4 linked regions of the Homo sapiens genome follow. The protein of the gene in region 1 interacts with the protein of each later gene in a pairwise test. Each region holds a gene or a part of one and is shown on either strand. Other genes may lie near its edges.

Region 1 (7,123 bases):
TATAGGTGTGGGCCACCGTGCCTGGCCCCCTTTTTTCCTTTCTTACTGTCTTCCTTTGTGGTTAAGTGATTTTCTCTGGTAGTACGTTTTAACTTGCTACTTTTTATTTTTATTGAATCTATTATAGGTTTTTGCATTGTGGTTACCTTGAGGCTTCTAAAAAAAATCTTATAACAAGTTATTTTAAAGCGATAACATCTTAGATCACAAAGAAAAAAATAGAAACAATGAATAAAAACTCCACACTTTATCTCCTTCCCTCCCACATTTTGACTTTTTGTTTCCTCAATTTACATATTTTTATTTTGCTTGTCTTTTAACAAGCTGCTATAGCTATTATTGTTTTAATTATGGGGTCTTACTGTGTTGCTCAGACTGGCCTCAAACTCCTAGGTTCAAGTGATCCTCCTGCCTCAGCCTCCCAAGTAGCTGAGACTACACCCAGCTCAATATTATTGTTTTTGATAGATTTGTCTTTGAGGCTTTATGGTAGAGTTAAGAATGAATTGCATACCACAATTACAGTATTGGAGTATCCTGGGTTTCTCTGTGCACCTAATTTTACCAATGGGTTTTATACCTTCAAATATTTTCTTTGGCCAGGAATGATGGCTCACACCTGTAATCCCAACACTTTAGGAGGCCAATGGGGGAAGACTGCTTGAGCTCAGGAATTCGAGACCAGCCTGGGCAACATGGCAAAACCCCATCTCTACCAGAAAGAAAATACAAAAATTAGCCAGGCATGGTGGTGTGCACCTGTAGTCCCAGCTACTCAGGAGGCTGAGGTGGGAGGATCACTGGAGCCTGGCAGTTTGAGGCTGCAGTAAGCTATGATTGGGCCACTGCACTCCATCCTGGGTGATAGAGCAAGATCGTGTCTCAAAAAAAATTTTTTTTCTTTTTGCATGGTTTTTTTTTTTTCCGGATTGAGGAACTCTCTGGAACTGTCTTTCTTCAAGAGAGCATTTCTTATAATACAGATCTGGTAGTGGTGAATTCTCTCTGCTTTTATTTGGGAAAAACTTTATCTCTTCTTCATATTTGAATAATAGCTTTGCTTGATACAGTATTCTTGTATGGCCTTCATGGTTTTGATTGAGAAGTCTGTGGCCAGGTAAATTAGAGCTCTTTTAAGTGTTATTTCCTTCTTTTCTCTTACTGTTTCTAGGATCCTCTCTTTGTTCTTGACCTTTGAGAGTTTGATTATTATATGCCTTGGGGTAATCAAATCTATTTGGTGTTCTCTGGCCTTTCTGTACCTGGATATTTGCAATTTTTGAATGTCTTCCATTGTTTCTTTGAATATCCTTTCTATCCCCTTGCTCCTCCTCAGCTCCCTCTTGAACACCAATAATTCTTAGATTTTGTCTTCTATATTTCGTAGGTGATTTCCATTCCTTTCATTCTTTTTTCTTTTTTCTTCTGTATGTATTTACAAACAGCCCGTCTCCAAGTTCACTGATTGTTTCCTCTGCTTGACCCACTCTGCTGTTGAGAACCTCTAATGAACTTTTCAGTTCAGCAAATGTATTTCTCAGTTCTAAGATTTGTTTGGGTTTTTTTTAAATTATTATTTCAATCTCTTTGTTAAATTTCACTGATAAATTTCTGCGTTGCTTTTCTATGTCGTCTTGGAATTCACTGAGTTTCCTTAAAAATGCCATTTTGAATTCTTAGAAAGCTCACATATTACTGTCTTGTTAGGTTTAGTCACTGGTCCCTTACTTGGTCCATTTGGGGAGCTCATGGTTCCCTGTTTGCTTTGGTTTGTTGTTAATGTACATCTATGCCTTTGCACTGAAGGATTAGTCACTTATTCCAGCCTTCTCCGTCTGGCTTGTTTTGGCTTTTACTGGCTCCATTTGCTTACAGATTCTTCGTAATTGACCTGTTGGTTTCTTTTTTTCTGCTAGGTTGCTGCCTCCTTTTTAGCACTCAGTGGCACCTTAAAACCAGGTTTGCCTTGGCTCTATTAAAGATCAGAGCGTCTCCCATCCCGAATGGGGGAGGTCCCAAAGGGGATATCCCAGTAGCATAGGAAAGCTGGCTAGGGGTTCATTCCCAGGGGAGCTATGGAAGAAACCTCCCACAGCATGGTGCTAACGAACAGCCACTCTGATTTGGCATCTCCTTTGGCCAAGTTATAGAGTAGAGAGAGTTTCCAGGGCTGGGGATGGTAGTCCCACCTCCCCACTTTGTCTGTGGCTATTCTCAGAGGATATTTCTCCCTTGAGGCACTCCTGATGGTTGTATTCTTGTGATTACAGCACTTTGGGAGGCCAAGGCAGGCGGATCACTTGAGCTCAAGAGTTTGAGACCAGCCTGGCCAACATGGTGAAACCCTGTCTTTACTAAAAATACAAAAATTAGCCAAGTGTAGTGGTGGGTGCCTGTAGTCCCAACTACTTGGGAGGCTGAGGCAGGAGAATCGCTTAAACCTGGGAGGCGGAGGTTGTAGTGAGCCAAGATCATGCCACTGCACTCTAGCCTATGTGACAGAGCAAGACTCCGTCTCAAAAAAAATACAGATCTTGTGTGAACTAACAGAATAAGAACTCACTTGTTACCGTGAGGACAGCACCAAGTCATTCATGAGGGATCCACCCCTATGACCCAAACACCTCCCACCAGGCCCCACCTCCAACATTGGTGATCACATTTTAACATGAGATTTGAGACTGAGTAACAAGTGTTAGGATTAAAGGCATGAGCCACCGCGCCCGGCCATCTTCTTTACCTCTCCACTGTGTCAGTTTTATTTTTCTCTTCTTCTCTAGACACTTTGTTCCTCAAGATAGGGGGCAGAGTGGGAAAATGACCATAGTCAGAATCTATGGGAAGGACCCACCCAAAAGGAAAAGGCTTCTTGTGCCCAGGCTGCAGATCCAAACCCCAGGGAAGGACTCTCATTGGTTCAGTCTCCATTCTGTTCCAGGTGGAGCATAATGATTGGTCCAGCCTGACTCGTTTGCCCATCTCTTAACCATCAACATGGTGGGGAGGGGACACGCAGGAGACTGTCAGCTCCTATCCTAAACGGGGGAGGGGGCAGGGGTGATCATTTTCTGAGCTCCTATAAACAAAGTTTCAGTTCTTTTTCCTCCTATGGCTGGAACACTGGAATAAGGAAAGAGGTCGTCTGTCTGGAGAGGCTGGTTGGGGAGTATGGTCTCCCCAGCCCAGCCAAGCTCAGGTCCCTGCATACAGCAGGCGCCTAATTGATGCTTATAGCACGAATGACTGAATGAATACCCCGTTCCCACAGGCTGTCCTGGGATGGTCCTAATTTCACAGACCCTGAGCGGATCAAGAATGAAGCGGGCCCAGGGGTCCCGCCCACCGGCTGAGTGCGTCTTAGGACGCAGAGACAAGACCACGGAGGGCGGAACCTCTGAGCGTTAGGTGGCACCTTGGAGACCCCGCCACCTCCAAAGGCCCAGTTAGGGGCGGAGCTTCTAAACCCTAGCATTTTGGATTGAACCATCGTCCGTCGGTTAAAGGGGAGAGCCGAGAAAGCCCTTCTGCATTTGTCGCCAGCCTTTTTACCACCTCCTGGCCACAGAAACGACGTATTTGCTTCTCTAACGGCGACGCCGTTTCCCCCTTCGCCTCGTTACTCCTCAAAGCCCCACGCGGCCACAGAGTTCAGACTTACCCACCACCACCTTGCAGTGGCTCGCCCCAGTTTGACGCATTGCAGGGAAGGTCGGACCAATGGGCGCCAAGCTCTCATTTCCGCCATGGGCCAGGCCCAATAGTGACGCGGCTCACAGAGGGACGCGTCACGCACCGCCGAGCTGTGCCCCTCCGCCGAAGAAAGTGAAGTGGGCCCGGGAGGCGGGGCGCGCGGCGAGGGAAAGTAGTCCGGCGACGGGAGCGAGCGCGCGCGCGCCCGGCGGCAAACCCAATTCCTGTGCAGGGTGGGGACGAGAGATTCGCGGGCCCGTAGGTGTGGAGCGGGGCGCGGAGGGATCCGTGGGAGCCGCAGTGCGGCGGCGCGCGGGCCGGGTGGGGCGGGGCCGAGCGAGGCGGGGCGCGCGCGGCGGCCGTTGAGGGACCGTTGGGGCGGGAGGCGGCGGCGGCGGCGGCGCGCGCTGCGGGCAGTGAGTGTGGAGGCGCGGACGCGCGGCGGAGCTGGAACTGCTGCAGCTGCTGCCGCCGCCGGAGGAACCTTGATCCCCGTGCTCCGGACACCCCGGGCCTCGCCATGGTGAGTGAGGCTGGGGGGTCGCCGAGGCTGCGGGCTCTGAGGCGGGCTTAACGGGGCAGGACCCCTGAGGGGGCGACAGAGCCCAGAGTGGGGGGCGTCCGGGCCCGGCGAGAGCCTCGGGACCCTTTTCTACCCGCGTTGTCGGGGGCTGTTGAACCCAGAGCGGGACGTCTGGATCACCAGAGGTTTCCAGAAGCGACTTTAGCACCAAATGGGATGTTTAAGTCCACAAATGGGTATCTGAGCCCCTAAAGGGGACATTTGAACCCCGGATGGAGGATCGGGACCCTCAGTGGGACCCCTCAAAAGGATTTTGGACCCAGGATGGGGCGTTGGGTTTCAGGATGGAGGTGTTTGGACCCCAGGGGACGAAATAAGAAAGATGGGCTGGGGAGGGGAGCTATTCGGGCCCTGATGAAGGCGTTTGGTCCTGAGAGGATGCGGGGAACGGGGGACGAAGGGAGGCTGGGCTGCTCCTGGATGGGGTGGTGGAGGGTAGCTGGGCCCGGGCGGGGAGGGGCGACCCCTGGGCTCCTGTGGAGCAGAGGAGAGGGTCAAGGATGGGCGGTCACTTCTACAGATGAGACTCCCGAGGGTGGGGGAGGGTGGGGGAGGGTGGTCTCCAGAGCCCAGCACTGCAGAGGAGGAGGAGGGTGAGGTGCAAGCTTATGGGAGGAAGAGCCTGGGGTGGGTGGCAGCGGAGATTAGAAGATACTCTTGAAGGCTTCCGGGACGGAGAAGGATCAGGGTCGTGGAGGTGGTGAAAAGGGATGGTGAGAGTGGGGCTCGCCAGTAGTCGGGGGACAGGGACCCTTGGGGTTAATTTGGAAGTAGCTAGAAAAGGTTCCGAGGTTACTAGTGGGTTAAGACTGTTGCTCTAGAAAGACAGAATTTTTTTAACGGGGTGGGAGTGTTGTGTTTGGGTCCAAGAGAAGATGGATTTCCAAGGTGAGGGGTGGGGGAGGACTTGGGCTTGGGTGGTTGGGAGGTGAGGTGGAAGGAGAAAATGAATGGCAGTCAGGGGGGCCTAGGTTTGGGGGTGGATGTGGGTAGCACCCTGCCAGTCTCCAGGGACAGGCCAGGACAAAGACGGCTCAGTGTGGATGGGGAGTGGGCTGCAGGGCCCGGAGGAAGCTTTTCTACCGTCCTCCTTCCTCAGGAAGAACGCGGCTGGGTGGAAGACACCGGGGCAGTGGGAGCAGGTGGGCGGAGCTGTTCGGGCCCCTATTGCGCACTGAAGCCTCATGAAATGGGGATGGGAGATCAAAGTTTGGGGTGCCTCGAATGAGCCAGCTTTTTCAAGCCTAGAAGCCTCACTCTGTCGCTGCCCTTTTCAGGCCAAGAGCACTGCCTTTTCCCAGCAGGAGCGCCGGTTTTCTCATGATCCCCAGCCCCACGCACCATGCTGCACCTCGTCACTTGTGCCAAATGACAGTGCAGTACAGTGTGGCGTCAGTGACAATCAGATGCCTATTCCCGTGCCCTCGGGGTGGGGGCTGCAGAGCTTGATCAGAGAGTGCCTCTGGGGAGACCCCTTGATCGGCCTGAGGGCCACTTGTTCCATTCAGGGCCCTCGCTGAGCGTGTCTGTTAATTCACAGGGCTTTGAGAGAAAACCAGCAGACTAGTTCTTTCCTACTCCCTGCCACCCACAACACCCACAGCCCCACCAGGCTGAGCCTGGGAACCGTGTGCAGCCATCCTCCCTGGCAAGGCTGGGGAGAACAGGCAGCCGCTGCTGTGTATCAGATCTCATACTTGCTGACACAGACCTGATGGCTCCTCTTGCCGCTACCCCATTTTCCCCCAGCAGAACCTGGCTAAAAGGGGCCCTGAAGCACTAGCAGGCCCCCTACCTCCAGAATAGGACCCAAGCTTTGGCCACAACTAGTTTCTCTTTCTGTTTGTAATCAGCAAGGTAGAGGTGGGACAAGTCACTGGTAACTGGCCTTGGACTTTGGCCTGAGCTCTGTGGCTCCTCCTTGGCCCGGGTGAGGGGCCCTGGCCTTGGTTTCTGATCTCATCTAACACTGCTCTCTGGCATTGGCTGGGGGCTGGGGCAAGGCAGAGAAATCACACCCTCTTCCCTCCCCCACCTCATGGTTTTTTTTCTTGTCCAGCCCCTTGCTGGAGCCTAAGATGAGGGATAAGGAAGCAGGAGACCAGCTGAGTTATTTTGGAAACAGTTTTTGTTGAAAGTTTAGTCTTCAGGTCTAGAAAGGGAAGAAACCTTGAGCAAGGATCAATGATATCTTCTTAGGCGGTCGGTTTTCTGGGCGGCAACCTTGCTTGAGATCTGTACCTTTCCTTGACCAAGCAGGGAAGTGGGTCTCCAACATGGGAGGGAGAGCATCTGACAGGCCCTCCATGCAGAGCCACGCCTATTTGCAGCAACCCTGTGACAGAACTGAACATGGCAGTGCCTCATCTGCATCTTCCAGTCTTTTGGTGGAGACTGGCAAACGGTGGCCTTCAGAGCCGCTCGGGGCAGTCTGCAGCCTGTCACAGCCTCCTCGCCCCCACCCCCAGCCCCTTACAGTGCTGCCCAAAGGTCCGGGGAGCTGGACTTCTTGCAGGGCGGAACAGTGGGCTGGGAAGGCCCTGACCTGGCTCGCTTTTTCCATTCTAGGCCAGGGGAAAGAATGAAAAGCAGATGGGATGGCAGCCACCTCCCCACACTGCTGCCCTCCTCTCTGTTCTTTCCCTGACCCTCCCTGGGCATTGCCTGGTCTCGGTAACCAGAAGCCCATCCTCCCTTCTCACTTTCCCTAAGCCTCTTCCTCAGGTGTCAGGACCTAAGGGATGGCTCCAGGCTTTTTTGTCCATGGTGGGAGGTGGGGGGCAGGTGGATCAAGAGGCTCATGGGCCTGGGGCTACCAGGTTGGCATTTAGAAGCCCAACCACCCTGTCT
Region 2 (6,598 bases), on another chromosome or scaffold:
GTTTCTGTTCATTATGAAACATCAATATGTTTTCTACCATTTGTGAAGAAATGAATTTTCCAGTTTCAAGTACCTATTCAAAATTTTATTAAAAACCAGCAAATTAATTTTAATCTCTAGCCATAAAAACATAAGTAATAGTAAGCTCCTAAGCTTGGACAAAGGCTGGATTCTCTTCACTATAACTGAGTGGTAATTTAAAGACAACAATTTAATGTCACTAATTTTCAAAATTAAATAGTTTAAGCTCAATTTAATTTTGCTAGATATTTAACAAAACATACGGCTCAACCTCATAACCTATATGTGTGTATGTCTACATCTGTGTATATATCATAGGATTTGAGAATCTTAACACATGTATAAATAAGTATATATAAACTCCAATTTTAAATCTTAAAATTGCTGAATTTACCCTCATATTCTTTAAAAAACTTAAAGCATTATGAATGTAGAGAAATTCACCAGAGCTCACTGCCTATTTGATGGCTGTAACAAGTCTTCAAGTATATACTTTTATAATAAGTTGAAAATTTCATATAATTTTATTTATTAAGAATTCCAATCTAAGTATAAAGGTACAAGGTAGTGAGAAGGAAATACTACAGTTCGGAGAACTGCTTATTTCCAAGTATATTTAACTTATAAAGTTAATAAATAGTTAAATGAAACAAAGTTTATAGGTGACCTTTAGTAAATGGGGAAATTAACAGGACTTTCTTCTTCATCTTCAAACTCTTCAGAAGCAGCAACAGGGCTAGTTAATTCAACTCCCAATTGTTCTGAAAGTTTTTTTACCTTCTCTTCTAAGAGAATATTCTTCTTCACTTCTTCCTTGTAATTATACTTAAGATCTTCAATTTCTTCAAAAAATGAAGGATCAAAATTTTCCAGTTCTTTTTTCAGCTTCTTTATTTCCTCCTAATGGAAACATTATCTTTAAAAGTTGCATATAGGAAATATACATATTTTACGTTTGAACAAGGAGATTTAATTGTAAATATGAAAGCCAAAGTATTCCTGAATGGTCAAATACAGCAATAAAGGCAGAAGAATTAAGATTTTTCTTTGTTCCATTGTACAGTGTAAATAACTAAGTTGTTAACTGTCAAGTCCAGTTATGTATTCTGTAAGTTGTGTTCTAGTCTTTGACTAAAATTTATCATCTCTTATAATGGGACTTAATCTTTCTCTAAAAGCATATAAGAGCTTGTCAATAGAGCAATCAATCAAAAAGATTTTGTGATTCATAACATTGAAGTTAGTCTGGTTAAGAGTTTTGGTTTAGACTTCATTTATATTTTCCTTACTAATATCTAATATTTAATGAATAATGATCAATTTTTTATAAAGTTATTAATATGATCAGGGAAACCTTTGGGACTTCTGACAGGCATCTGGTGAAGAGACAATTCAAGCCTTAGTGACTATTTAGAATAGCCAGTGATCACTAGCTAATTCTCATATCCATGCCTTTTTGTCCTGTTTACAGTCTTAAAAGAGGTAAAACAGCAAATATTTTTTTAAGGGAACTATAACCTTAGGATTCCTGAAAAGAATTTCAAAAAAAAAATAAAGACACTGTTGCCAATGTGACCCAAAACTTAAGAACATACTAATGGCATATATTTGTTACAATTAAAAAATAAATTTACTACTTAATCCTATGTTGAGTCTGAATTTTTTGTTAACTCTAATATGTTAGGAATAGTCAGATGAACATAATTAACTTTGCAATATAAAGGTCAAATATAAGATGTTATTACTGAATTTTTTAGGATACGTAGTTAAAGATGGTAATGAAAATAGTTTTCAACAGCTGTTTTCACAAAACGATACTAAAATATAATTAAATATTACCTTCAAATGCTGCTTTTCTAGATCTGACATTTTGAGCTGTGTCTCTAGATCTTTTATTTTTTCCTTTAGTTGATCAGCATCTGTTGAAAAAGTCATACAAATTAGACTCAGCTTTTTCCCACTACGAATGAGTTCAAGGTAATGGATTTGTTCTAGAGAACAGAGATACATTTTATGAAACCTAGAACCTGGAAAACACTGGATGTTATGGCTGAAATACTTCAGGATGTAAACACTTAATGCTGCCTCCCTCCATCAAGTATTATAATTTCATAGCAGGCAGAAAGAGGTATGTGCTAGGTATTAGAAGTGTAGGCCAAGTTATTTTTTCTTCACATGATAGAAATTTTACATGGAAAAAATCCTAAAGCCAGGGAAACTTGTTAGGTACTAAAAGTACAACAGAAGAAAAGCAGACTGTTGGGTAAGGGACTATAACCATAAGCTAGCCAAATGCTCCCGCTATCCAACACAACACTGGCTATTCCATGTAGGTTATTACACATTTACTGTGCAATTACTATGTGCAAAACGTGTCATGCAGGCTGTGTAATACAAAGATAAGTAAGACATAGCCCTGATACTTTGGTAGGAAAACAAAAGTCTCCAAATATAGCACAAAAGTTCTAATTTATTGGATTCACCCTCCAAGTTAACACCTCTAACTTTATCAGCAGGCAAATAGGATTTTTGCTTTAATGCTATCTTTGCTAGATATCTCTTTTCTTTATATTATACTACATTTAATAAGTCATATTTTACAGCCATTGAAAAATAATAAAATACTAAAAGTTTGCGAAAGTAAGGGGCAGCAAACATTTTCATGGCTGGGACAAGTATCTTTTTTTTTTTTTTTTTTTTTGAGACAGTCTCACTCTGTCGCCCAGGCTAGAGTGCAGTGGTGCAATCTTGGCTCACTGCAACAACCACTGCCTCCCAGGTTAAAGCGATTCTCCTGCCTTAGCCTCCCTTGTAGCTGGGATAACAGGCAAGTGCCACCATGCCTGGCTAATTTTTATATTTTTAGTAGAGACAGGGTTTCACCATGTTGGCCAGAGTGGTCTCGAACTCCTGACCTCATGTGATCCACCCACTTCAGCCTCCCAAAGTGCTGGGATTACAGGTGTGGTGTGCTACTGTACTGGGCTTGGTATAAATATCTTAAAAGTTATCTTGCCATTTATATAGACAGTGATTTAGAATTTCCAAAACAGTTCTGGTTTGATCTTAAGCCTTAATCTTTGAAAAATGACAGGTAATCTGTCTACTTAGGAAATAAGGAATTTTGAGGGTTCAGAAATTCCCTTAAGAAACTGAGGAATGGAAAGATTAGAGAACTATCTATGGCCATATGACCCTTAATGCACATGCACCTGATCTCTGATCTCAGAAGCTAAGCACTGTTGGGCCTGGTTAGTATATGGATGGAAGGAAAATTATAAAATTTTCCTCACATCAACAGCATTAATACTGTGTCTAGTGTACATACCAAGCTGGCTGCTATGAGACATATTTTGAGAGTATTTAATATGTACTTTTAGTTACCAAGACGTAGCATAGCATAGCGGGTTAAGGACTAGGAATGCCAAGGAGCTGTGGAGTTTCATACATTTAGATTTTAATCCTGCCTCTATTTCCTAGCTGGCTTAGGGAATGGTTACTTAACCACTTTGAATTTGTTTATCACATAAAATGGAGACAGTAATACCTATCATATATGGTTGTAAATATAGAATGCTTGTAAGGCAATTAGCATAGTGTCTAGTACAACTCACACATGATGGCTTTTATTACAAATTAGTAATAGGACTACATAGCATACTGAAAAAGCTACAAGAGATAGTCAAAGATAGTTCAGATATAAATTGGTATAATCCTTTGGAGAGAATGGCATCTCTATCATCCTATCACAATGGCATAATTAGGTCAATAGATTAATCATATTTTATAGAAGCAGAAACTTGGAAGCAAACTAAATATCCATCAAAACATAAATGGTTCGATGTGCTTATACATGCAATAATACACTATGGAATTATTAAATGGATGAGATAATTTATGAACAGACCTCAAAAGATGTCCATGATAAACTGTTAAAGGCAAATATGCTAGAAATGTGTATAGTATTAGTTCAATTTTATGTTACTTGCCAAGAAAATATATATACGTAAATGCAAACAAAGTATTCTCTATCCATAGTAGTTTTGGTCTATAAAGTTAGCCCAATTAGTGAATATCAAACCACTGCTGCTACGGGAAATATGTACAGACATGCATATATATACATACACGCATATATATACATACACGCATATATATACATACACCTACATATCTCACACAGATGATAATCTTAAATCCTAAAGATAACTCATCCTGGTAAATTCTATTTATTTACATAAGAAAACAAGATTCAGAAGTGTTACATGACTCTCCTAAGGCTAGAGCAGTAACAAGCCTCAGAATTGGGATTCAAATCCCTTCCACCAGGCCCCAGAGCCACAGCTTCTTGCACTATGCTGTGCTGCCCTCTACTGTCTCCATCCTCTGCTCATTTCTCTATGAAAACTGAAATGAGGATACTGAGCACTGCCTTGTTGGACTTCTGCTGGGGACATGTAGGTTGGATTATTCAAACTTTCCAAGGCTCTGTGGATGTTTGCAAATGTGCTGCGAGTGTTGATTTGGGATTACATACACACTTTAGTGAGGAGGTGATTTAGAAAATACAGAATCCACAAATAATGAGGATATGTACATTGTACATATGAACATACAAACACATGTATGCATATGTGTGATATATATGTATACAAAATATGTGTGTATGTATATGCAGGAATGAGGAATGATTAGTAATCACTTTTGAATGGGAATGGAAGGGAGCAGAAAGATTTTCTTTTTACTTTGTAAACGGAAAAAAATATAGGCAGTATTTACTTATTTGCAGTTTTTAAAAATGTTCAGAGGACTTGAAAGAGCCTATACTTAGAAACTGGAAGCAACAGATTTAGTATTCATTGCTTAGCACTGTATTGTGATTAAATCTGTAACACCCAGATGGAGAACAAAGAGAAGAACACTTGGGTACTTGCTACTCTATAGTATAAACAACACAAAGAGAAAAATGGGAATATTTTTATATTAATAGCACAGAGAGACAAAAGACCCAAAGCTTATCAGGAATTCGATTTTACAGGGAGACAATGATCAGAAATCTGAGCCAAAAAAAAAAAAAAAAGGCAAACCCAAATTCAAAAACTTGGGGGTAGCTAACATGTTTTTTAAAATACATTACCAGGTATGGTGCTTTCAGCTCCACTTTGGTCCTTGTTAGCTTCTATCTGATGGATTAATTCTGCTTTCTCTTTATCCAGCTGATGATTAGCTAATCTAGAACACAATGATAATGTGTTAAAAAAATAAAGCAGATATTGCTTCATAAAATATATGGGCATTTCTTATGAACTAGTGATGTACAGTAATCAGAACAAGCTAGCCTTTATCGAAGTAAACATTTACTCTCAATGCTACAATGTCACCATTCTCAAACAAAAAGCCTGGAATACAAAAGCCTTCACGTTTTTCTTAATATCTGACCTGATGGCATTTGCAAGTGTGGTTTCGTTATAAGAGGAGCTTAATGAAAGCAGGCTACAGAGACCCCTGAAAGTAAAAAAATTACTTGTTCTCTTTCATTAGTATTTTCCTCTGGGAAGCTAAGGTTTAACTCATTCTATGCTCTTAGAAAAGTTTAAACTAAATTACAAACTGGAAACTTAGAGTTGGGTTTATCCTTTTTTTCTAGTGTGTATTATGAAAAAGAGTGATTAGCATTAGAGGGAAGAAATAAGGACCTAATAAGCCTGTTAGGCAGTAAAGTCGAAAAATGCTTGTCTCTAGTTGTAGCAATTCGGAGTATATAAAAACTAATAATTTTTTTTTTAAAGAAAAAAACAAAGTAGTCATATGAATACATGATGTACCTAAGAACTTGAAGCTCCCGTTTAAGGCCTTGCTCTGTCTCAGCACCTTCAGGAACATGTTTAAGAATCTTAATCTTTGAGGACAATGAAAAGTTAGAAGATAAGGTTTGCCATGGAAATATGAGGATTTATAAAGATACACATTTTTAACAAAGCGTAATATTAAAATATGGTTTTCAAAAGCACGCATAGGCAAATTTCTATGTTCTATTCACCATTCATTCAACAAGTATTGAGTAACTACTGCATAACTGGCATTGTCCTAGGCACAGAGGCTAACAGCAGTGAACAAAATGGCAATGTTCCATCTTGCATGGTCCTTGTTTAGTGGGGAAGCACAAAGAATGTGTGTTTAATATGATATGATGTAATATAGTGCCAGATGGTAGGAAGAGCTATCAAGAAAAAATAATCCAGGGTAAGAGGATAAAGAGTGATGGCAAGTAGTATAGGGTTAGGGTTAGGGTTAGGGAAGGTCTCTCTAAGGAGCCTCTATTTCAGCAGAGACATGAAGTCTGGGAGCAAGCTATGAGAATATTTGGGTGAACAGTATTCTAAACAAAGGAAACAAGTATAAGGACTTGACGCTTAAACGAGTTTGGATTGTTTAAAGTACTGAAAGAAGGTTACTGTGGTTAAAACATTGTGAATGAAATGAAGGGAAAAGTAGTAGAAGATGAGATTGGGAAGAAAACTGGGTGCCAGACCTCATATGTTGTTTTGGGATATGAAAAGAACTTTTAAGTTTTATT
Region 3 (7,025 bases), on another chromosome or scaffold:
CACTCTCTGAGGGTGCTACTTGGGCAATTCCTACACAGATGGAAATGACACTGCCCAGCCCTGGGGAGGGAGCCCTCGGCCTTAAAGAGTCCCTCGCTGAGGACTAGTTTGGGAACCACAGGACAGTCCCAAAGACAGGACCAAGGCTCAAGGGCAGGACATGCTTGGGGAGCCAGGTGGGCAGACTGCTGCTCCCAACTGTCTTCCCTTCCCACCCAGTCTAGGCTGGCTCAGACTCCTACACTGTCTGCCACTTCCAGAAGGCAGGGCTGCCAGAGGCCAAGCTGTCCCGCCAGAATCACACTGCTGCTCACGCCCTCTCCCCTCCTAACGAGAGAAGGAAAGGGTCCTAGGGAGGAGCCTCTAGGCCAAAGCCTCTCCTACTTCCTGCTTGACACATAGAGAAACTGAGGCCCAATGAGGAAAAGCAGCTTGCCTATGGCAGCACAGGGACAGTGAAGAAGTGAGATCCCTGTCTCCCAGGCCAGAGCCCCTTCCCTCCATTCACCCCACTTGGGTGCTCTCCTCAGATGGCACCTTTGGGCATCTGCCCACTTCTCTCCCTCTTTCTCACCTTCCCTCTGCACTTCCTGCTTCCCTCTCCGAGCCCTGCTCTGCAGACCCATTTCTGAGCCTCCCCTGTTACATCTCCTCCCAGCCTCACCACCTCACCCCCCTTCCCTCTGCTCTGGGCCAAGGAGCAATGCTTGGGTGGTTTAATTAGCTGATTATGACCGCAGCCTGCTGGATGCAGTGCCCAGAATTCTGTCCCCAGTAATTAGGTGGGTTCTGAGTACTTGCCCAGTGGGGAGCCGATGGGGAGCTCTGTGCTCTGCCAGCCAAGGGAGGCTGTCCAGCTGAATAAAGAGCTCCTTGATCACCGGTGGGTCATCGGAAACCATGGTCCCCTCCTCAGGCCGGGTCAAACCACACTGGAGGGACTGCAGCCAGACCCAGATGTCCATCCTAAGGAGGGACTCCCTACTCTCCCATGCCACTGCCCACACCCGGGAAAGGCTCAGTACATGACTGAGGATGAGGATGAAGAATGGAGCGCGCCCTCCAGAGGCCGGGAGAGAATGGCTCCGTGGCCGGGGCACCTATTTAGGAAGTAGGATTGGACCAAGTAGACAGAGAGGCGCAGCAGGAACAAAGGCCCTGAGGCGGGAATGAGCCGCCAATCCCCTTCCCAGAGAGCTCTGGTTGTCAGAAAATACAGTCTTCAAGCAAGGTAAAGCTGAACATCCAGTGACCTCTGCCCTTTAGGTCACAAAGAATAATCTAATTCCTATGGCTCTGGGCTACTTTGAGATATTTTGAAATCAGCAATGATGTCCTATGGTCCTCACCAACCACACTGCCCACCCCCTAGAGTATCTCCTCCCAGCGAAATGCCTTGGCTGAACAAATATTTATGGAGCTCAGCGGCATGCCAGGTCTGCGCAGGTGCTGGGGACAAGCAGATCCAGGGTGCTCTTGAAAAGTTCTTGACCTCACAAGATGACATCATCACGAGTGTGCAAATAACCAGGACCTATGCAGGGAGGGAGGGATGAGTGCTGAGAGAGAGAGATTACAAGAAGGTCACAAAGCGCTGGGAATCCAGTGAGGGCTTCCCAGAGGAAGAGGTGTATGTGATCCAGGCCTTGAAGGATGGGACAGCTGTTGTATGTGGTCAAGTCAGCAATCAGGTACTGAAAGCCAGCAATAATACAGGCTTGTAATGAGGCCTTGGGAGGCTCAAAAAAATGAATCAAACAGGGTCCTTCCCTGGGGGAGCTCACAGCTGGGTTAGGGAGGCAGGGCCGGTGAGACGTCATATAAGCGATAAGAACCGCATAAAACTGACCTTGCACAGGGACTTTCTTTGCTTTATCTTACTTAATTTTAACTCAGTCCTCATGACAACCTACTACCCTATTTTACAGATAAGGGAGCCACAGCAGAGAAAGGGTTAAGTAATCAGGGAAGCCACCCAGCTGGTAAGTGTCAGAGCTGGGACTGGAAACCAGGAAATCTGGTTCTTCCAAGAGCCTAACCGCTATGCTAATCTGCTAATAATCCATGCTAATCAGATCACCGAAGGGCCTGCAGGTGCCCAGAGGAGGCCCCAGAGCAGCAGAGAAGGCTTCCTGGAGGAAGTGTTCCTGACCTGAGTATTTTTTTTTTTTTAAGACAGAGTCTTGCTCTGTCCCTCTGTCGCCCAGGCTGGAGTGCAGTGGCGTGATCTCGGCTCACTGCAAGCTCCGCCTCCCGGGTTCATGCTATTCTCCTGCCTCAGCCTCCGGAGTAGCTGGGACTACAGGCGCCCGCCACCACGCCCAGCTAATTTTTCATATTTTTAGTAGAGACAAGGTTTCACCGTGTTAGCCAGGATGGTCTCGAACTCCTGACCTCAAGTGATCCACCCGCCTCGGCCTCCCAAAGTGCTGTGATTACAGGCATGAGCCACTGCCCTGGACCTGCTACAGATGCTTTATGTCCCTGGAGGTGAACATGACTGCTGTTCAAGGACCTGATACCATGGGAGACAGCACTACCCTTTCGAGCAGTAGCCAATTCCTTCCTGGCCGCCAGCACCCAACACCCATCCCCACCCAGGACACACTCCCTGGTGGTCTCAGTCCCACTGGCCTGTAGCAGAGGCCTGAGACTTTGGCCGCCCAGAAGAAAGGTCACTCCTGGACCTGCTAGCAAAAGGGCCTCTCACCTGATTTGACTTCACAGGGAAACTAGGACCCAGAGAGGGTGCATGTCATGCCCAAGGTCACACAGCAATAAGTAAGCAGTAGAGCATGCCTCTGGGACCATTCTGAGATGGTGAGCCACAGCAGTCTACTCCCCACCCCTCCCCTGGCCCTATGCCAAAACCTGTCCATGCCCTTTGCACAAGGCAGGGGCAAGGGTGAAGAGGGAACAAACCTAGCAGAGGTTTGCTCACCCTCTGTCCAACCCTCTGTTCTCCAACCCCCTACTAGGACTCAAACCACCCCTAGGATGGACGCATCCTGCACACGGGAAGGCAGAAGAGAAGGTGCCCAGGAACCATCTGAGATGATACCTATTCTAATCCCAGGGCTCATGTGGGAGACAAGGCCCCAACTTCAGGAGCCCCCAGTGTGATGGGGGAAGAAAGGAAGAAAGAGTTCAGTCCAGTTCGACAAGCCTCCCTGCAAGGCTGAGGGAAGGGTGTGGCCGCACAAGGACCAAGTGAGTTGGTTGTGGGCTACAGGCCCAGGGCCAGCATGAAAGGGACCTCCTGCCTCATCCAGGCCCATACACGGGCTGTTGAACCACTGAATGGTTCAGACATTGCATCCTGCCTCCCGCTGACTCGACATCAGTCACAGTGCTTCCAGTGCTGAAGGCCCTTTAGACCAGCAGATCCCTCTCCAGGTGCAGGGAGGCAGAAGCTCAACTGTGGCCTCAGCCAGGTGCCGCCCAGCCCCAGGCAGAGGAAAAGCTGTTCAGTTCCTGCGGTGACCTTAGTCACACACAATTCTGGGGACCTGTCTTGTCCAACTCCCAGGGGCTTCATCTGGCACCAGGTCTCCTGGGAAGGAACAAGCAGTTCTTCTGAAGTGGGGCTAAAGATGGGGCCAGTCCCAGGAAGGAGGAGGCGCGTCTCCCGAGAGATGACCCTGCCAGGGCCCCTTAGGGAAGGCGGGAGGGGGCTGGGACAACAGAGTCCTTTGTTACCCTCTCAAAAGCAGCCACCCTGTCCTGCCAACCCCCTCTGTTCTCCAACCCCCTACTAGGACTCAAGCCACCCCTGGGACAGGAACCATCCTGTCCACATAGGAGGGAAGAACACAGGGTGCCCAGGGACCATCTGAGACGATACCTGTTCTAATCCCAGGGCTCACATGGGAGACAAGGCCCCAACCTCAGGAGCCCCCGGTGTGATGGAGGAGACATCCTTCCTTCAGAAGCCTCCAGTCTGAGGAGGGAGACATGGCTCCCACCTGCAAAAGCCAATCAGATGAGGGAGCCCCAGGCCTCCCGCTCAGGCGCCCCATGCTAATAGGAGTGGTATAACCCTGTCCCTCAGGACTTCCCAGTCTGATGGAGGAGTCAGGACCCCACCCCTCTCTTTTGAGAACTTGCCTAATGTGGGAAATATCGCTTTCAGTCTTACGATTCACTAATGGGAAAGGCCTAATTTCAGCACTTAGGGAGTCCCTGGACCGATAGCAGAGGCAAGAAGGGAAAAAAATTTTCAGTCCAGTTCAGCAAACCTCTGCCAGGCATCTCCTGGGGAAGCAGACCCAGCGTGGGTAAGGAAGCATCAACTGAGAAACAGAAATAGCCCTGAACCACAAGCTGCTTACCAAATGGGGAGCTCACTCAGCCTGAGGTATGAATGAATAAGAAAGTACCTTGAAACCACCCCCTCCAGCATCCAAGACCTGCTGGCCAAGGCTGTCCCTTCCTCCACAGCCTCACCCCTCACACTCCCACACCTGCAGCCAGTATCTGCACCTTGGCCTAGGCTCTTTCTTCTGTCTAGAACACCTTACTCCTGCCTAAGTCTTTCTCATACTCCAGCACCCAGCTCCGGGGTCACCTCTTCAAAGAAGCCTTCCTCCAAGTCCCCCACCTGAGTCAGAAGCCCCTCCTTTCTGGAGCCAGCACATTACATGTCTTCCCCAGGACCAGCTCACACTTCACAACCCCTCAGCCTGAGCCTGAAAGGAGAGCACAGGGCAGTGGTCTTCTGCCTCTGGACATAAGGCAGAGGGAGGGGGTGGATGAGATAAAACCCCTAGGTTCCCATACCCAGTCTTCACTGCCTGCCGCCATACTGCTTGCTCCCAGCCCAGGGCCTCACGCCCTTCCTCCAAGAGGCTCAAGCCTTGCTCCAGGCATGTAGAAAAGCAGGGTCCCCTCCCACTCCTCTCTGCCCGCTGTAGCCTAGTTTTGCCCTCACCACTCCACCAAAACCCATGCCACCAGCTAATGCCTTCTGGCTGAATCTGAGGGGTCTCGCTCCAGCTCATCCTCTGTGGGTCTGTCCCTGCTTCTTTGGCTCCAAGAATATGGCCTTCCGTCAGTTTCCTCCCTCTTCTCTCCATACCCAGGCACTGGTGCTCTCCAAGGCCCTGGCTGTCCCTAATCATCCTCTCTTCATACTCTATACCTCCTCCCTATGCGATGTCATTCATCCACATTTCCAAAGCCCTGCCTCGCACCTTGATTCTTACCCCAGGATCCAGACCCTTCTATGCAGAAGCCCCACTACGTCCAGCCTATAACAGACTGCCCTGGCTCCCTCACCAAGCTGCTCCCAGCCATGCAGGCCTCAGCCAGATGGTAGGCGCGGGCACTCTGGCAGTAGCGGAGCATGGCTGTGTAGAGGCCAGGACCTCACTTGGGGTGTGCTGACTCCCAGCCTGCTGTTCTACTGCCACCAACCCAAAGTGTCAGAAGCCCTGGAAGTGGCAAGCCCACAACTCAGGACCTCTGGACCCATGCCAACGGGAGGCGTCAGCCTCAGGCAAGGAGGCCCAAACTTGGAAGGAAGAGAGCAGTGGAGAAGTCTGAAGCCCAGAGGCCGGCCTGGAATCAGGGATCAGAGACAGTGGGCCAGACTTGATGCTACCACTCCCAGCGGCCCCATGAGCAGCCCTGGCCAAAGCCACAGGACTTCCCCATGTTCCAGCCAAGATGGGTCACACAGGGCTTAACCACCAAGAGAAATGACAGCCAAAGTTCACAGAGAGCTGGTGATTACATGTCCTCATCACCCTCCTTTCTCTGAAAAAAGAGGAGTTCATCTGCAGGAAAGGAAATTCCATTCCCTACCACTGCCTCTCAGGAAGTCCCTCCTGTTGTCTAAATCTGATCCTTCATGTTGTCTGTTGAGTAAGTGGAAACGGCAAGGCCCAGAAAGGACGCACAACTTGAGGCTGGGAGCTGCTGGGGAGGCCAACTGTGAGCCAGACAAGGCCCCCTCTCTTGGGCAAAAGCGTCGAGTAGCAGAGAGGGCTTTGTGGGTCAATAGGCCTGGGTTCTTATGCTTGCTGGCTGAATGGCAGTGAACAAATACTTAATCTCTTCTAGTCTGTTTCCTCATCTGCAAAATGGGGACAACAATGACTACACTACTAGATTACAGTTGAATTCATTGAGATTATGCGTGTAATTCTAACACACACCAGATACCTGGCAAAGGTCCAATCGACCAGCAAGGTTGATGGACTCCACCTCCTATTCACATTCATATTTCTCAACTCTATCCTCTCTGCAGCCTAAGTTCAGAGCTCACAGCCTTAGTTCTCAGGTTTCTCCCCAGCCTCCTCACTGGTCTTCCTGCTTCTAGGCCTGCTCTTCCCATCCACCCTACTTGGCGCTGCCAAAGACATCTCTCTGAAATGAAAACATCTGCTTCCAGCCCTCTGCTGCCTCACACTCTTCTCTGAATCACCATCCACTTCAGGAGAAAATGCTCTCTCCTTAGCCTGACATTCCCAGACTGCTGGTGACCGGTCTGTGTTTACCTCTTAAGGCTCACTATCATCCCCAGCCCAGGCCCCAGGCTGCACGCCTTGCTTCCTGCCTCCAAGCCACTGCACATTCTGCACCCTTGGCCAGAAATATCATTCCCAATCCCGCCCCCTTGGCCTATTCATCCTTCCAGATGAAGCTCAGTAGTTCCAACGCCACCTCCTTTCCAGGAGAGCTTCCTGTACCATGCTCCCTGCCTGGGCCTGGGTTGGGGACTTCTCCTTAAGCCTCCCACAACACATGTCATCCTGCGTTATGACCACCTGCTCTGCTCTAAATCCCTGGAGGACAGAGTAGACTCCTTCCTTGCTGAATCCCCAGGCCCTGGGCACTCAGAAGGCACTCATCAACATTTGTTGAATGAATATATGATTGTTCCCAGAGCACCTTGCAGCAACCATCATACTCCTGCCCTGTGATTAGTCCTGTCCAGGTATTTTTTTTTTTTATTTTTTCAGACAGGGTCTCACTCTCTCATCCAGGCTGGAGTGCAGTGGCATGATCATGGCTCACTGCAG
Region 4 (7,436 bases), on another chromosome or scaffold:
CCTCTTGCATCAATTTCCTTATTTATACAATGATGGGGAAGGAGAGGCAGACTAGATAATATTTAAGGTCTGTCTCTTCCCACAGCTCTATGATATTCCGGGCATCAGATATTCAAATAACCCAAAATGAAGTCAGTACTATTATTCATTATCATATGAGAAGTTTTTAAAGGATGATAAAAATAGTTCCACAGACTAAGTCATAAAAGCTGGAGAAATTATAATGCTGAGAGAAGGATATATGATAGATGTCCTCTAAGGAATACCAGCCTCAGGCATTGTTTGCTCTGCCACTTTGAATAAGCCACTTAATATTCCTAGGACTCAGTTTTCTGATCTGTAAAAGAGGAACATTAATACTGCACAGGACCACTGGGAGAAAATATCTAATAAAATGATCATAAAATATTGCTATTCAAAGGTAAAATGCTATTTTAATACCGTAATGTCCAAAAAAGGGCTCATGGATTTTAGAATGAGACAATCAATATCTTTAAATAGACTTTTTCCACCACAGTAAAATAATATAATGCATGCAGATATTGTGATATTTCTAGGAGTTCACATTTTTTCTTCCATTTGTGTTCAGGAAATATTATAAAAGGGATCACCTTTTAAACATTGAGTCCCATATTTCAAGATGAGAACCATTTATTCTGAAATAATAATTTTAAAAATTCATCCAACTCTCCCAAGATGCTTCATTTTTTTTGATGCTATTCATTTGATTGGTTAATTGAAATCAACCTGCTGAAACTGGTGTTGAAATGACAATGCCCATCCTAAAAATATTCCCAGTGACTTATTCTATTCACATTCTATGATTACAGAGGGAAAGTGGCTCTAATAAGATCAACTAAAATAGACAGTATTCTGCCTTCACAGCTCCAAGATTCTTAAGGTTCCCTTAAAACCCAAGGCATCTTGTGACTTTTACATGTAAGTTTCTCTTCCTGCTCCCTCCACTCAAAAACATACACAGTATACATTAGGTACTGGGTTTCCCCTCTAACTTACAGGGCACTGCCTCTTTACTGAAAAATAGAATTGTCATTGATATTTATGAGAAAGTTGGTGTCACTGACAATGGGATAACCAAATTTGCAAGATTGTCTCCATACCCCTTAATAGTCCAATAAAAATAGCAATAATAGCACAGTAACTCTTATTTTATTTAAAAATAAATGAACAACTCCAGCTTTTTTATGGCAAAACAGTTCATTGTGGCTGTTCACATAGCAATTATCATCCCCTTGCATCCCCAGGTAATGACTGTGACCTTGACCTAAAAGCCACCTTAGTTTGAATAAGGAAGACCTTGAAAGGAAAGGTGACTGACCAGAAACACTCTTAAGAGGCACACAATAAAGAAATGATCATTTCTAAGAAAGTACTTAAATAATACGTGATTATTTGCTATGCTAGTTGATGTGTTTCATTATAAGATAAACTTAAATCACTGTTTAATTAAAGAGTGTTTATTAGTAGCATAAGTCACTTTTCATGCCCTTCCCCTGAATCCCTAACTAAATCCAAACAGAAGCTCATCATTTTACACAGAAGCTCCTTAGACTCTGAAATCGTGATATTTACACATTATTAAAACCCATTTCCTAAGTTAGCTCCTCATGTCTCCCTGGTAGAAGAATGTCATCTGTTTCTGGAAGGGGTGGGGTGGGGGCTCTAGGAGTCTGCAAAGAGCATCTTATGCTTGGCTATCTTTCAATATAGCCATTTGATGAACTCGTGCGCTGCGCCTTCCAACTGCCAGGACTCCTAGTCGCTCTGCAAGTGCTTAGTTGGGGTCTCTCCTCTGTTAAGTCCGAAAGGCGTTTGGAATTCTTCCTTTCCATCCCCGCTCCTAGGACTCTCGCCTCTCAAGGCTTCATGCTACCGTCGATCTTAATGCCACAAGGAAACAGATGAGTGCTGATTGTCAGTTTATTGGGTAATGGATCTATTTATAGGTTTGGTGAGATTGGGAATTTATAGGTGAGCAACACTTAAGGGTGGCATAAAACCGTTGTGGGTTTGGAAGAGGGGAAATATAACAGGTTTGTACCTGTGACCATTTAGTTCGCTCTGCACCTGTGCCCTCCACTTCCCACCTGACGCCAGGAAAACCATCTGCCCCTCACTTCGAAGGTGAGCCTTAACTTCACCTAGAAAGTGGTGGGTGGGTGAAGGGGTGGAATCAGGCCGCCGAGAGCACGTCCCGACACCTCGGACTTTTCAGTTGCAGGGATGGAAGGTGGAGGCAGCCGGATCCTCCCATTCTGAGGCAGCGGGGACCTGGAGTTGCCCGTCTCTACTGCTGGCTCTCCCTGGGGAGAGGCGGCGCCTCTGGGAGCAGCCCGGGAGCCCCAGAGCCTTCGCGGAAGGGTGGGCAGTGCCGATGGGGCGCGCGCTGCCGCTCCGGCTGCAGCCAGCTTTCCATCACTTTTCCCAGTACTTTGCTCAGCAGCTGTCACGCATCCTTGGAGATAAGACCGAGAGGGCGCTAGAAAGGCCCAAAAGGCGTCCCCAGAAGAGCTCTCCTGTTAGGATGGGGACCCATCAGACCCCGCCCCGCCCTGCCCACCTTTCTCTGCCTCGGGGAGGCTGCCCTGGGTGCCCGCGCCGCGGCTCCTTAGCAGAGCTCGCGGGTTCTGCTGCATCTGCTGGCTCCGAGCGGCGAGAGGTTCTGCAATAAAGGCACGGATAAAACGCCCGGGTAATCGAAATCCGAATGCACCTCTTACCATTGGACCGCCGAACAATATTCTCCAGAAACGTGTTTTGAGGGGCCACTAGTCCCCTCCTGCCCCCAGCCATGGTCATCCTCCCAGCAGCTCGGGGTCCGGCGGGCGTCCTGGCGCGGCTTCTTACGACAGCAGGAAACTGGCCTCGGGGCCCGCACGCAGTCCCGGCTCGAAGCGCCCCATGCGCCCGGCGGGGATCCGCAGGCAGGGCTGGCGGCTCCCTCTGGCTGCTACCCTCGCGCCCTCTTCGCGCCTCCCTCCCTGCGGCCCGCCTCGCAGTGCACTCGCGCCGGCCTCGGCTAGCGGCAGCCGCCTCCGGGTGGGCGGAGGGAGCAGCGGCGCCTGGGCCGGCGGCGCCCCCTACCGGGCTCGTGCCCCACCGCCGGCCTGCGGGAGACCAAGCTGGGGGGCTCCCGCAGAGGCAGGGAAGTGGCGGGCGGCCGTGGACCAAGGCTGGGACGGCAGCGCCACCCTCTGGGTTCAGCCGGGAAATGTGTTCAGGATGTGCCATGGGCTGGGTGGAGAGGAGGGCATTGTGAGCAGCTTTCAGGGCGGATTCACCCCCAACAAGTCTTAGGGGAGCGTGCTGATGTAACTCTCTTCCTTTGCTCTGTTTCAGGCCGGGGCCCCCGGGACCTGTGAGGCTCTGGGAACACCTTCTTGCCTTCCTGTAAGGTTAGCCTGACTAGTGAAAGTTGCCCCACCTTGATTCTAGGCCAGTGTTTGAGCAGTAATTAATGAAGTCGTATTGCAATAGTGCAGATTTAGAGTGACTGGCAGATTCAGCTTCAGAAGAGTTGTCTTGGGTTGTTTTTACCGTAGACACAAATGCAGGCTCCTGATGTTTGGTATGATCAGTATCAAACTGCCTGACAAACATCAAAGGGGTGGACTTGTCTCTAAGGGCGAATGCTCAGGAGAGGGGCAGCATTAATTAAGCAACCGTGGCTTTGGCTTGAAGGGTAGTCTGTAGTGCAGAGGATACAGTTAGTTTTTACAGCTGACCCCTGGTATACGGAAGAACCACATACACCCAAGGTTTCTGGACAGGGGCTAAGACAACGGTCGTTTGTTCACTTATTTTGGGGGATTTCGACCCACACATAGTCTGTACCTGCCTTTTTACTATGTATCCCCAGTCGGTGCGGTGGGAGACTAAGCCTATGTCCCACAGGAGAAATGAATGGAGAGTTTACTAGTTTCAGACTGAGTCAACAGTCAACACAAAAATGTAAGAGAAAAAAAAACTAACCCTGAAAATTAATTGTCTGGGTTAGCCATCCTGACATATCCTAATGTATTGCAAAGACATCCTGTCTCAGTTAATTAATTTCAAAAACAGAAGAACTAATTCTTGCCCAGAAATCTCTCAGAGTTGCTGTGAAGATCAAGCAAGAATTATGTATGGGGACAGCACCTTAAATTGTAAAGTGCTGTGCCAAGGTCAGACGTCATTATTGGAGTGACTAAATAAATTGGGCCATTACGAATATCACCCTTTATCTCGTCTTGTGTAGAGACAAAGTAAACAGATTGCTGTTAGCAGAGAGTTGGATAAGACTGTCATAGGATTTGAAATGCAAGTAATGATACACTTTTTCCTTAAGATAGCCTTCTACCCATCGCCTGTTACCTAGTCTAGAACAGTGATTTCTTAAACCCTAGCTCCGTCTAGTGGTTCTTTGTTCTATTACAAATGAGATAACACTGGTTGAAGAGAACTTGATTCTGAAATGTATTTGGTGCTGAGCTGAGCCAGTTTGGTGCCTATCCACTTCATTTGAATAAGTTCATTTAAATAAGGTTTTTAAAGTTGTGTTATCGCACAAACATGCCAAGGGAAGATTTTTCATGACAATATTAAAAACCCATCAAGAAACCTCATAATCCTGCTTGTGAAAGGAAGATAAAGAAAATAATGTGGAGGGGAAAACTATCATAGAGAGTTAATAAAATTTCTAAGGTTTTAATGAGCTCTCATGTTCTGTGGCTTAGATAAAAAAGGAAACAGATGATATTAGTTTGAGATCAGAGATGTTAAAGCCTTGGTGGGCAACCTGATGAGAAAAAGAAATAAGATGTCTTCCATTTTAAATGTACTACTGAAATGGATCTCAACATGGACTCTGTGTGTGTGTGTATGTGTGTGTGTATTGGCACCTTTTTGAATACTACAATTTTTGGTGGCACACTTGAAGAAATTAAAAGACCTAAAACAAAATAGTGCTACTACAAAGTGGTTCTTTTTTTTAAAGTTTTAAACCTCCAGATTGTGTGCCATAACACGATCACATTATTTTACGTCTTTTTGCTTAAATAAGACTGGATGCTTATAAAAGCACTGTTATACTGTGTTATGGCACTTTAAGTACTTGCTTAGAAATGATCATTTCTTCATTGTGTGCTTCTTAAGAGTGTTTCTGGTCAGTTACCTTTCCTTTCAAGGTCTTCCTTATTCAAACTAACTAAGGTGGCTTTTAGGTCAAGATCACAGTCATTACCTGGGGATGCAAGAGGAAGATAATTACTACGTGAACAGCTACAATGAACTGTTTTGCCATAAAAAAAAAAAAAAAAGCTGGAGGTGTTCATGGATTTTTAAATAAAATAAATATTTAAGAATTAAATTGCTAAAAAGTCAGCAGTCTTTCATCACAATGTGAGTGTCTCATGGTGTCTGTGGAGGTACATCCAGTTTTTCCCCCATTCCCTTGGTTCACTCACAACACATCTGACTGCAGGAATAAAATCATGTTCTGCCCTGTCCACAGCCACATTCTCAATATTCCAGTAAACACTCCCTCTTTCTTGGTGCTAGTTGACGGGATACTGTGCTTCTTACCTTTTACTTGCCACCTTTTGTTCCCTCCTTGACATTCAGTTCCAGCACCTGCTCAACTTAAAGTTCTGTCTGAGATCTACCTCTGTAATATGGGAATCTCAGTTAGAGTAAACTTTAATCTTACAGATTTGTCAAAACTTGGTAACAGATTTCTAAAGGATTCACAATATACCAATGTACCATGGCAAACCAATTGAGAACGCTTATATTTTTGCATAACAGACAAAGCCACTCCTTCATTTAAAGGGACAACTTTAAATAACTGTGACCAGAGTTCCAATTCAACTGCCTCTATCCTTCCATGCAGAAAATGTAGCCCATTTTCTGCAGGGATACAGAGTTCAGATACAGAGTCTGAAATAAATTCTAAAATGTGAGTCTACTATTTCTAGGCTTCTTTCCTCCTGTATCCCTCAGCATTTTGTTTACCCCTTAGCTATAAGATGTGTTTATGTCTGTATCACACCGTAGATTGTGAGCTCCTTGAAACAAAGACACACTATAACAATTTTTGTTCTTATAAATGCTATTAAGCTACACTGTAATTAGTGAGTTCACAAAAGTAATAGATAGTGATGAAGGCATAATGCTATAGGGAGAATATGGAGATGGTGATCTGCAGATTGGCTGGGAAAAGAGTCCAGGAGATGACAGAAAAATCTCTCCCAACAACAACAACAAGTCTATCAAATGAAGAGGATGACAATGCCACACATCAGAAGGGGCAAATGTTATCATATAAAGACAGGAACTTCATTTTTCCTTCCATTAAGACCACATGGTGTGGGTGACAGATTTTAGAAAGCCAGGAACCTCTCTAACATAGGAAAGTTGCCTGTGAGTCCTAGGTCTGCGAGCTGGAAGGGGCAGGCCATGGATGCATCGTCATTAGCAACTTAAGCGGAGGAGAAATTGAACATAGAGGCGACTTCACTACTCAGCCACCAGGAGTGAAATATCTAAATATCTAAAAGTGGAGGAATTTGCAGCATGAGAAATTTCAGCTTCTATAGCCCAATGACTGACTGACTTATTATATGTGATTTCTGTTAACAAAACTTCTATTTGAATAATCTTATAGGAAGAATGTTGGGCAGACTATATCCATTGAAAAAAAAAAAGATTCCCTGCTATAGATGTATTTCCCTAGTGTTGGGAGAATGGACAGAATCTGCTTCAAAGGAAATACTAGTCCCTGAATCTAATTGACTGGGGAAAAGAATGCACTGATGTGGGTCTACACTCACCCATGGTTAACCCAATAGATAGTGTGAAATGTTTGTAGAATTGAATTATATCCTTCCAAGTGCCCTAAGCTATTCTTCTTTCTCATTTCCTCTAAACAAAAGAGAAAAGGATCTTTCATCACACCCTTCCCTCAGTGGGAAATAATTAAAAGTCATTTACAACAGTCTCATTTTATTATGACAAACATTTGCATCGTGTCTAGTATATAGCAGACAGGGATAGGTTCTAAGGATTAAAAGATGGTTATGATTGGCACCTGCCCTCAAGAAATTCAACAAATATTTAATGAATGTGTATGTTCTTCGTCATTTCTTTCAACTGCTTTCCTGTCTCCAATGTGCCCTCTAAATCTTCCTTTCTTTTTAAATAATCTATAGTTCAACTTGACCTCTTCGCTTAAGATTTTTTTTTTTTTTTTTTGAGACAGGGTCTTGATCTGTTGCCTAGGCTGGACTGCAGTAGCAAAATCATGGCTCACTGCAGGCTCAACTTCCTGATCTCAAGTGATCCTCCCACCTCAGCCTCCTAAGTAGCTATAGGGGCAGGCCACCATACCTAGCTAATTTTTTTTTTTTCTTGTAGAGACAGGGTCTCCCTATGTTTCC

What was found.
Region 2: the proteins of CALM3 (region 1) and CEP290 interact in binary tests that used the Homo sapiens proteins (3 or more experiments, as listed by UniProt).
Region 3: the proteins of CALM3 (region 1) and ARRB1 interact in binary tests that used the Homo sapiens proteins (3 or more experiments, as listed by UniProt).
Region 4: the proteins of CALM3 (region 1) and KCNH1 interact in binary tests that used the Homo sapiens proteins (3 or more experiments, as listed by UniProt).

What each region holds. Positions count from the first base shown.
Region 1 is NC_000019.10:46,597,225-46,604,347, forward strand, and holds the start of CALM3 (calmodulin-3), read left to right. Parts: upstream 1-4,105; 5' UTR 4,106-4,210; coding exon 4,211-4,213; intron 4,214-4,844; exon of another isoform or gene 4,845-4,983; coding exon of another isoform or gene 4,984-4,986; intron 4,987-5,372; exon of another isoform or gene 5,373-5,415; intron 5,416-7,123. UniProt on the Homo sapiens protein: Calmodulin acts as part of a calcium signal transduction pathway by mediating the control of a large number of enzymes, ion channels, aquaporins and other proteins through calcium-binding. Calcium-binding is required for the activation of calmodulin.
Region 2 is NC_000012.12:88,048,494-88,055,091, forward strand, and holds the end of CEP290 (centrosomal protein of 290 kDa), read right to left. Parts: exon of another isoform or gene 6,008-6,598; intron 5,921-6,007; coding exon 5,847-5,920; intron 5,254-5,846; coding exon 5,159-5,253; intron 1,941-5,158; coding exon 1,861-1,940; intron 1,668-1,860; exon of another isoform or gene 922-1,667; coding exon 691-921; 3' UTR 523-690; downstream 1-522. UniProt on the Homo sapiens protein: Involved in early and late steps in cilia formation. Its association with CCP110 is required for inhibition of primary cilia formation by CCP110.
Region 3 is NC_000011.10:75,341,654-75,348,678, forward strand, and holds part of ARRB1 (beta-arrestin-1), read right to left. Parts: intron 1-7,025. UniProt on the Homo sapiens protein: Functions in regulating agonist-mediated G-protein coupled receptor (GPCR) signaling by mediating both receptor desensitization and resensitization processes.
Region 4 is NC_000001.11:211,131,126-211,138,561, forward strand, and holds the start of KCNH1 (voltage-gated delayed rectifier potassium channel KCNH1), read right to left. Parts: upstream 3,024-7,436; 5' UTR 2,821-3,023; coding exon 2,742-2,820; intron 2,250-2,741; exon of another isoform or gene 2,063-2,249; intron 1,902-2,062; exon of another isoform or gene 1,154-1,901; intron 1-1,153. UniProt on the Homo sapiens protein: Pore-forming (alpha) subunit of a voltage-gated delayed rectifier potassium channel that mediates outward-rectifying potassium currents which, on depolarization, reaches a steady-state level and do not inactivate.